2 separate regions of the Homo sapiens genome follow, and region 2 is linked to region 1. Evidence: fine-mapped expression QTL. Tissue or cell type: whole blood. Region 1 holds a variant in brackets; the other region holds the start of a gene. All regions are shown on one strand. Distances are between the middles of the regions.

Region 1 (5,151 bases):
CTGGGAGACAGAGCGAGACTCCATCTCAAATAAAAAATAAAATAAAAGAAGAAAGGCTGCTTGGGAGGTTAAAATTTTGAAAGCTTACATTTCTGAAAGTGTCTCTATTCTTCATTCACACTTGCATGTTAGCTTTGAATTCATCATATTCCAGCTTCTAGCGTTGTGCTTGAGAAGAGCAAAGCTATTGCCATTTCTGATCTGTAGTACATAACCTGCTATTTTTTTTTTTATCCTGGAAGCTTTTTAGATCTTATTCATAGTTGTTCTGAAATTTCACAATGTTGTGCCTTGGTAGGGGATTTTTTTTCCATTCATTGCCTTGGATACTCGGGTAGGCCCTTTCAATCTAGAAACATATGGTCTTCCATTTTAGAATTTTTTTTCTTGAATTACTGTTATTTTTTAAAACATTATTTCCTCCTTTCCATTTTCTGTATTCTCTCTTTATGGAACTCCAATTACTCAAATGTCAGACTTCCTAAATTGATGTAGAAGGTCTCTGATTTTCTAACTGTCTTTCTCCTATTTTCTGACCCTTTTTTCCTACTTTCTGTGATTTTTTTTTCAACTTTACCTTCTGACTTTTCTTTTTTCTTCTTTTCTTTTGAGACAGGGTCTCACTCTGTCACCCAAGCTGGAGTGCGGTGGTTTGATCATAGCTCACTGCAGCCTTAAACTTCTAGGCTAAAGCGATCCTCCTACCTTGGCCTCCCAAGTAGGTGGGACAACAGGCATGTGCCACCATGCCTGACAAATTTTTTATTTTTTGTAGTGACAGGGTCTCGCTATGTTGCCCAAGCTGGTCTCGAATTCCTAGGCTCAAGAGATCCTCCTGCCTCAGCCTTCCAAAGTGTTGGGATTACAGGCATGAGCCACCACACCTGACGTCTTGAATTTTTAGTTTCTACTATCACAGCTCAACCTTCCATGAATGCTTTTATTCACTGAATATTCAGTTTTAAGAAACAATATTGGCTGGGTGCGGTGGCTCACGCCTGTAATCCCAGCATTTTGGGAGGCTGAGGCTGGTGGATCACCTAAGGTCAGGAGTTCGAGACCAGCAGGGCCGACTGGCAAAATCCTGTCTCTACTAAAAATATAAAAATTAGCTGGGCGTGGTGGCACATACTTGTAATTCCAGCTACTCGGGAGGCTGAGGGAGGAAAATCCCTTGAACCCGGGAGGCGGAGGTTGCAGTGAGCCAAGATTGTACCACTGCACTCCAGCCTGGGTGACAGAGGAAGACTCCATCTCAAAACAAAACAGAACAAAACAAAGCAAAACAAAGAAAGATTTGCATGTATGATGGAGTGATTTTAGAATGGGGTGATCAGACAGGGGCCAGTCATTCTTGGGGGAATCCCCTATGATACATTTCCATGTCTCTTCTTTTGGTGGTCAGTTTCCTATGGGAGTTCTCTGAACTCCCTCCCCATAGTTATAAATGTGTCTGCCAGTGTCTAGGAGTCAAATATGAGGACAGCACGGGTTGGTACATTGACTTTCATTTCATCCCCCTTCTTTGATACTCATCTTCCACCTTCAGTTGTTCCTAAGTCCAAAGTTCCTCTAACTCAAACTCCCCATACAATAAGTGGTCCGTCTCTGATGAAGGCTGAGAGAAAGTAGTAGCTTGTTGCATAGGCTAAGGGAAGAACTGCAGGGATTAACTCTCATTTTTTTTTGAGATGGAGTCTCGCTCTGTGGCCCAGGCTGGAGTGCAGTGGCACCGTCTTAGCTTACTGCAACCTCTGCCTCCCAGGTTCAAATGATTCTCCTGCCTCAGCCTCCTGAGTAGCTGGGAATACAGGCATGCACCACCATGCCTGGCTAATTTTTGTATTTTTAGTAGAGAGGGGGTTTCACCATGTTGGCAAGGCTGGTCTCAAACTCCTGACCTCAAGTGATCTGCCCGCCTTGGCCTCCCAAAGTGCTGGGATTACAGGCGTGGGCCACCGTGCCCAGCCTTAACTATTGCTTAAGAAAACTTTTTATTTTTATTTTTTTCTTGCCCTGTTGCCTAGGCTGGAGTGCAGTGGACCGAGCATGACTCACTGCAGCCTCAACCTCCTGGGCTCAAGTGATCCTCCTGCCTCAGCCTACTGAGTAGCTGGGACCACAGGTGTGCATCACCAGCCCCTGGCTAATTTTTGTGTTTTTTGTAGAGATGGGGTCTTACTATGTTGCCCAGGTTGGAAGAAAACTTTTAATCAGTGCTCTAGTTTTCAGCCGCAGCCATGCCTTTTCAGAAGTATCTGGTACCTCCAATTCCTAAGCCTTTGGGGTGTTTCAGAGGCATGGATTGGCTTGTTTTCTTGGCTTCCCCATTTTGAGACCCTTTACTCTGGTGTGTGAGGTTCATTATCTCTCAAATTTCCAGCTTAAAAATCTTTTTGATCCTTCTCTTTGCTCTTACCTCTCTTATGGACTTATGCTTTTCAAAAAAAGTCTCTTGCCTCACATTTTAGTGGGGTTTTGGGAGGAGGCCCAGGAGTATGCACATGTTCAACCGGCTATGTTTAATGGGAAGTCCTCCGAGCCCACAGAGTTTTCAACTCTCGTTTTATTGAACTAGGCCTCCTCATATAAACCTATGTCCAGTTTTAAAATGGAAGTCAAGTAAAAATGTGATTTGATTCACATAGTTTTAAGAACAGCTTTTATTTATTTATGTATTTATTTTTTGAGATGGAGTCTGGCTCTTTCACTCAGGCTGGAGTGCAGTGGTGTGATCTCGGCTCACTGCAACCTCTGCCTCCTGGGTTCAAGCGATTCTCTTGCCTCAGCCTCCTGAGTAGCTGGGACATCAGGCGTGCACCATCATGCACAGCTAATTTTTGTATTTTTAGTAGAGACGGGGTTTCACCATGTTGGCCAGGCTGGTCTCGAACTCCTGACCTTGTGATCCACCTGCCTTGGCCTCCCAAAGTGCTGTGATTACAGGTGTGAGCCACCACGCCTGGCCTAAGAACAGCTTTTAGAGATGCTTTTGGCCTATGTGGCTAGATATGAATTCTCACTCTGAGTATAATTGTCTGACTGTCATGTGTTGACTGTGTACACACAGCTCAAACCCAGAGTCCAGCCTTGTCTCTTCTGATGAAATACCAGTGC[C/T]CACAAACAGAAGGTTCCCCTTCTCTCACCCATGAATAAACAGGAAGGTCTCTTGGAGCTGTGGTCTTGGGGCTGTAGCCCTGCCCCTAATTTCCTCAGACCCTTTACTGAGAACTGAGTCATTGCAACATCATGCTCAGCCAGCTGTCTCAGCACAAGAAAAAGCTTTGCTGTGGTATGAGGTTTTGTGGGCTGCAGACTACATCTAGGTCAGCAAATTAAACTCCATAGTGTGGTTACCAATTCCAGCTTCATCTAGCTTAAGGGCTGTCTGATTTCACCCTCTGGGCATTGGCTCTTCTGGTGTTTGGGATATAAGGCCCCTCTGTGGGTGTTTAAGGCACAATATTTCAGGCCTAAACCACCGAATGACACATGCCTAAACCCAGAATCCTGTATTCTCCACCAGGACTCCAGGGTATGTGAGGGTAACAATAGTCCAACCCTGCAGATAATGAGATTTGTGTGTGTGTTAGAACAAAGGGGAAAGGTGGGGATGTATTTCTTTGATGCTCAGTTTCATCTACCACTTGTATTTCTCTCCTGCCCTTCTTTGACCCTAACATGATCCAAACCCTTCTTTCTTGCTTCTCTTTTATGGAAGTTTTGAAGAATGGATGGTTACATAACAGATGGCCAGCTGGTCTACCTAGAAGGGCCTTACAAAGGACAGTGCCTCCGTGGGGAAGGCTCACCCTGGATCAGACGCCGGATTGCAGATTTACCATGAATGAAGCCCTTGGAGACTGAATCATGTTAAAAATTCAAAAACAACTCAGTAAATATTTATTTGAAGTCCTGCTGTTCTTCAAGGCCCTGGAATGCAGATATGAGAAGAGTCACTGCTGCCCAAGAGCTGACTGACTGTGGAGGAAGACCATGCTAGCAGGTGGCTACGTTTTCTACCACCTAGCACCTGCTCCCCCTTCTCCTGGTAATGGTATCTGCAAATAATCTCCTCAGTCTGTGTGCTTTCAGTGGAACTGAATCTACCCCTGGTTCAAGAGCTCAGGTACAGCCTCTGGCCTGGCTGCAGTGATTAGTTTAGAGATGGACTTGTAACCTCATCAAAGCCCGATATTGTTCAGGGTAACATACTAGATATATTTTGCTAGGATTGCCAATAATCATTTATTTAAGCTCCTTAGATGAGGTTTCCTGTCATTTGCAACTGAAAAAGCTCTGTGTAGCAGGTTGAATAGTGTTCACCCCCTGCCCAAAAAATACACTCACATCCACCCAGAACTTTGGAACTTTAGAATATGATCTTATTTATTTATTTATTTATTTGAGACAGAGACTCACTCTGTCGCCAGGCTAGAGTGCAGTGGCATGATCTCAGCTCACTGCAACCTCAGCCTCCCAAGAAGCTGGGACTACAGGTATGTGCCACCACGCCCAGCTAATTTTTGTATTTTTAGTAGAGACGGGGTTTCACCATGTTGGCCAGGATGGTCTATCTCTTGACCTCATGATCTGCCCACCTCAACCTCCCAAAGTGCTGGGATTACAGGTGTGAGCGACGGTGCCTGGCCTGATCTTATTTTTAAAAGAGCCTTTACAGATGTAATTAGTTAAGGATCTTGAGATGCAATCATTATGGATGTAAATTTAGGTGGGCCCTAAATCTAACAATTGGTGTCCTTATATGATGAGGAGATATCACAGACGCAAAGACACAGGGCATATGACCATGTGAAGAGGAAGGCAGAGGGTAGGGCGATGCTGCCGTAAGACAAGGATGCCTGGGCCACCAGAGGCTAGGAAGGGGCAAGGAAGGCCCTCCCCCTTAGAGCCTTCAGGGGGAGCATAGCTCTCCTGACACTTTGATTTCCAACTTCTAGCCTCCAGAATGGTGAGAGAGAATTTTCCACTGTTTTTAAGCCAACCAGCTTGTGACACTTGGTTAATGGCAGCCCTAGGAAACAAGTGCACTCTAACATGTGAAATCACTCAACAGATATTTATTGGTTCCTAATAATGTGTCTGAAAAGGACTTAGTATAAAATCCAAAGAAGAGGGACATGGAGGCTG
Region 2 (5,151 bases), 75 kb before region 1:
TCTGATTTTATTCTATATAGAACCTAAATGTTCGGATAATCTTTATTCTAGTTGCGTAGAATATGTTATGGAAACAGGATGTGGAAATAGAATTGGATATACAAGACTGCTAAAGATTATACGAAACGAGGACGCTGCCTTTCTTTTAAAGTGATAATTTACTGTGTCTTGTTTTCTGTTGTGAGAATCGGCTAGCCTGAAAACTGATTAAGTAAAACTGTACTTGAAAATTAAGTAAAACTTAACTACACCTAGCACTAAACACTGCAAAGAACATTGTGATTTACATGGTTTTCTCTCCCTGGACCAGTAGAGGGAGACTAAGACATCTGGCCTGGTCTTGTAGTGTTTCTGTAAAATTGGGGAGGGGGGGAGCGGAGGCTGTATTTAAATGTCCTGCTGTCAATCAAAAGACACTTCCTACAATCACAGTCACCATATCTGCTATTACTCGTGAGCGTGCTCTCGCCAAGAGACAACACCAAACGGGGCCCGGGAAACCGGCTTCAACTAAAGGTGACCGCAGGCTTTGCCACAACACCCAAATAAGGACTTTGGGAGCCCAACCCCAACTAGTTTCTTTGTTTAAATGCCTGTGAATCCCTCCCACGCCGGAGTCAAGAGGCTGTGGCGCCGCCCTTTATTAGCCTCACACTTTGATTACAAAACACACGAGTCGGCGGCCTGGCTGCGGAGGCGGCCCGAGCTCTCAAACGTCAAACCCGGAGCGCGGCGGCGGCTGAATCAGAGGGCAGCGTCCGCCGCCGCCGCCAGCCGGCCCCGCAGCGTCCGCCCGGCCGACTCAAGTTCGCCGGCACCGGCGCCCGGGCACAGCCGCAGGCGGTCCCGGTGTCGCCAGCTTCGAGCGATGGCAACTGCACTCTTTGTAAAGTTTAAGCCGCGGCGCGAGGGCAACGCAGGGGGTCCGGAGAAGCGTTCCCTTCGGGCCGCCGCAACCCACTCCATCTGCCCCAGTCCCGGCGACCCGGGTGTGTGCGGGGGCCCAGGACCGCGACCCGGGTCAACCTGCCGCCCGCCGGGGGCCCGGCCCCAACTTCCCCGGCACCTTTCAAGTCCCCGAGAGCGAGTGCCTCATCTGTTGCTCTGTTTACTCCGCGGAGCCCCGCCGAGCTGGCTGGCGCGGTCGCCTCTCCGGCCCGCCGCTGCCCCCGTCCCACTGGCCCAGGAAGTTTGATAAAGACGGGGAAGGGGGCGCGACAGGGACCCGCGGCGCGGAGGAGACGCGGGGCCGGGGCGACCCCATCGCCGCCCGGAAGGAAGGCAGGCGCGTCGGCCGGCCGGGCAGAGCGGCGGGGCGGCCGGCGACTCCGGCCGGAGCCCCGGGCGCGGCGGGGCGGGGCGGGGCGGCGGCGGCCCGGGCTGGCGAGGGGCTGCGGACCCGGCCGGCGCTCCGCCCGACGCCCCCGCCGCGCCCGCCCGGCCGCGTCCCCTCGCCCCAGGCTCCCCCTGCCAACTTATCCGCCGGCCCTCTTTGTTCGTGTTTGTTGTGGCGACTCTTCGCCCGGGCCAGGCGAGCCCACCGGCTCCCCTCTGGAGCCCGCCCGGCGAACCCGGGGCACCGCGCGCCCCACTGCCCGGCCGGGGGGCTAGGCACCGGGGCCCCCTGAAAGCTGGGCGCGGCGCGGCGGCCCGGCCCGAGGGAGGCGCGGGCGGCCGGCGGCGGCGGCGGTTGGTCGGTGGCCGGCGGTGGCGGCTGCGGGGCTGGAGGGGGTTTATTTACCTGCCGTGGAACCAGTCCTTGCAGATATCGCACTCGATCATGAAGCGGTTCACGTCGTACGGCTGCCGGCACACACAGTACACGGGCGGGGGCGGCGGAGGCGCCGAGGCCCGGCCGGGAGCCGCCACCGACACGGCTGCCGCGGCGGCTCCAGCTGCTGCTCCCGCGGCCACCGCCGCCGCCGCTCCGGCCATCTTTAAAAAACACACACACGCTCGCTCGCTACTCCGCTCGCCGACTGGAGCGAGCGCAGCCGCCAGCCAGCGCCGCCTCCTGCAGCAGCCGCGGCGGCGGCGGCGCCTCAGTGCGCGCGCGCGAGGCCGCGGCGGCTGGCGGAGGGGGAGGAGGCGCGCGCGACGCGCGAGGCCCAGACTCGGCTGCTTCCGGCGCTCGGCGCGGGGCCGTGCGTCTCGCGCACGTCTCTGGCGCCGGCGCGCGCTCCCCGCTCCTCTCCGCGACGGCCGGGCGGAGGGAGCTGTTGAAGGGCACGCAGGCGGCTGCGGGGGCGGAGGGAGCTGAGGCCCCGTGAGGACACGCGCGGTGGTGGCGGTGGCGGCGGGCGCGCGGCCGCAGCCGGAGGAGGACGGCGGGAGCGTGCGAGGAGCTGGCTCGGTTATTTCGGAGCGAGAGCCGAGGCCGGGGGAAGTTCCTGCGGAGTGCTCAAGGGCAGAAGAGGTGCCGCGTCCCGAAGAGGGGAAGCGGAGAAGTTTGCTGCTGCCCGGGTCGCCTCGCGACGCTGAGAGAATCGCCCAGCCCTCCGCAGCCGCCCAGCGAGAACCGGAGCTGCGGCCCCGCACCGGCGTGAGTCCAGCTGAGCTGACACGCCGAGCCGGTTGTGCCTTTCCGAGGGAGGAATGTGCCGTGGAATCCAAACTTTGGAAAACGTCCCACCCGAATTCCCAGCGAGCAGCAAGGAGACCAGAGCGTCGATGGAGCCACCGTTAGTTGCGGGAGGGCTGTCCCCAAGAGGAATTCATCACTGTCGTCCGCTGGGAGGGACCAACCTTGAAATGGGGTTGGTGGAGAGAGGGATAGAGAAGAGCCGGCGTGCTTATAAATAACAAAACTTAGCTATGAACCCTTCCGATTCCCAAGTGGGGAAGATGGGGTAAAATTCTAAGTGACTTCTCGCTCCGAAGAGGGATACCACAAAAAGCGGAGCGCAGGGTACTTGGCGTATAATAAGCCATCAATAATTTATGGGTGAAATTGAGAGCCAAATATAAGATGATAAACTGAAGAATAAAAACAGCTGACAAATACTGTATAGAAAAGATTGCGTTGGAATCATAACTGTGGATTGGAAGTGATGTTAAGGATTATTGGATTGAGTATTTGTAGCTGAATTTCTGCTGGCATTTCTATCAGTGGGGAAAGCCCTCACAGCTCCATAGGTAATTTTTGTTAGGGGAGGAAGAAGTGTTGTTCTGTCACCCACCCCCAGGCAAAGAGTCGCTGATCTAATTCTCCATTTCTTTCTTTCTTTCCTTTCTTTCCTTCCTTCCTTCCTTCCTTCCTTCCTTCCTTCCTTCCTTCCTTCCCTCCCTCCCTTTCCTTTCCTTTCCTTTCCTTTCTTTCCTTTCTTTCTTTGAAACGGAGTTTCGTTCTTGTTGCCCGCGCTGGAGTGCAGTGCAGTGCTGTGATCTCGGCTCATTGCAACTTCCACCTCCCGGGTTCGAGGGATCCTCCTGCCTCAGCCTCCCAAGTAGCTGGGATTACAGGCGCACGCCACCGCACCCGGGTAATTTTGTATTTTTAATAGAGACGGGGTTTCACCATGTTGGCCAGGCTGTTTGAACTCCTGACCTCAAGTGATCCGCCCGCCTCGGCCTCTCAAAGTGCTGGGATTACAGGCGTGAGCCACCAAGTCCTGCCTAATCTCCTTTTTATAGTTGAGGAAAGCTAGTAACTTGACTGAAGTCTCATATATTAGAGCTGTAACTGAAGTTTTTAAGTGTCTCAATTCTGCAACTATTCGTTTTTCTATCACATCACTGTTTGGCATATATATAGCGGGAAAAGGAAAGGCTGGAAATTAGTTGACCACACACTGATTAAGCTTGAAACATATTTCTACTGGAGAAAAAAAGGTACTGTAATTTTGGCATAGGCATCACATATTGCTGGAGTGGAAAGACCCATGCACTCAGGTCCTGCTTTCTATAATCTGTGACCTCGGGCCAGTCACTCCATTTCTCCTGAACTAGATCACTGATGATCTGTTGAAAGAAAAAATATGGCTAGTAATGCCTTAATTATCTCACAGAGGTTTTACATGGAGCAAAAAGACAATGTATTTTTAAATGTACTTTGTTGAAGGTGTGTGTTGTCGAGACAATACAGCAGTGAAGAGAAGGCATGCAAAGCTGTCTTGTTGGAGTCTGGCTAAAGAGCACCAAAGCAGCCTGTTGTGGGATGTCCTCTGGGGGCCACCTGGACTTGCTATGTTAACATGGAGGGACTAGGCAGGGGTATGAAGAAGGAAGCCCAGCAGAGCAGGAGGCAGCAGCAACAATGAGAGATTGGTTATCCATATGACTTGGATCTGTGTCCCCACCCAAATCTCATGTTGAATTGTAATCCCCAATGTTGGAGGTGGGGACTGGTGGGAGGTGACTGGATCATGGGGGTGGATTTCTTATGAATGGTTTAGTACCATCCACTTTGTATTGTCCCCGTGGTAATGAGTGAGTTCTTAAGAAATCTGGTCATTGAAAAATATGTGGCACCTCCTCCCTCTCTCTTTTGCTCCTGCCCCGGCTATATGATGCAATTTGTCTTCAGCCATGATTGTAAGTTTCCCGAGGCCTCCCCAGAAGCTGAGCAGATGCCAGCATCATGCTTCCTGTACAGCCTGCCTTCCATGAGCCAATTAAACTTCTTTCCTTTACAAATTACACAGTCTCAGATATTTTTCTCTTTTTTTTTTTTGAGATGAAGTCTGGGTCTGTCGCTCAGGCTGGAGTGCAGTGGTGCGATCTCAGCTCACTGCAACCTCCACCTCCCGGGTTCAAGCAATTCTTAGGCCTCAGCCTCCTGAGTAGCTGGGGTTACAGGTACCTGCCACCATGCCCGGCTAATTTTTGTAATTGTAGTACAGAAGGGTTTCACCATGTTACTCAGGCTGGTCTTGAACTCCTGACCTCAGGTGATCCACCTGCCTCAGCCTCCCAAAGTGCTGGGATTACAGTTGTATGCCTCAGATATTTATTTATTTATTTATTTATTTATTTATTTTTATTTATTTTTCTTTTTTTTTTTTTTTTTTTTTTGAGACACAGTCTCACTTTGTTGCCCAGGCTGGAGTATAGTGGCATGATCTTGGCTCACTGCAACCTCCGCCCTCTGGGTTCAAGGAATTCTTTTGCCTCAGCCTCCCAAGTATCTGGGATTACAGACGTGCACCACCA

Evidence for each region. PIP is the estimated chance that this variant, and not a neighbour inherited with it, causes the effect.
Region 2: KDM7A starts here. The variant in region 1 is fine-mapped to the expression of KDM7A in whole blood (TOPMed, PIP 0.96).

What each region holds. Positions count from the first base shown.
Region 1 is chr7:140,249,835-140,254,985 of GRCh38, forward strand. LOC107986854 (a long non-coding RNA gene) reads left to right here. Exons shown (of 2, transcript XR_001745386.2): 2 at 3,722-4,375. Among named protein-coding and RNA genes, the nearest start is that of KDM7A-DT, 75 kb to the left of the region's middle. RefSeq lists enhancers at 2,950-2,999, 3,030-3,099. The variant C/T (reference allele first, on the strand shown) is at 3,118.
Region 2 is chr7:140,175,003-140,180,153 of GRCh38, forward strand. It overlaps KDM7A (lysine demethylase 7A), which reads right to left and starts at 1,981. Exons shown (of 20, transcript NM_030647.2): 1 at 1,742-1,981. The coding sequence starts at 1,935. KDM7A-DT (KDM7A divergent transcript) reads left to right here and starts at 2,259. Exons shown (of 1, transcript NR_024451.1): 1 at 2,259-4,638. RefSeq lists silencers at 710-989, 1,000-1,179, 1,820-1,919, 1,960-2,389 and an enhancer at 1,614-2,537.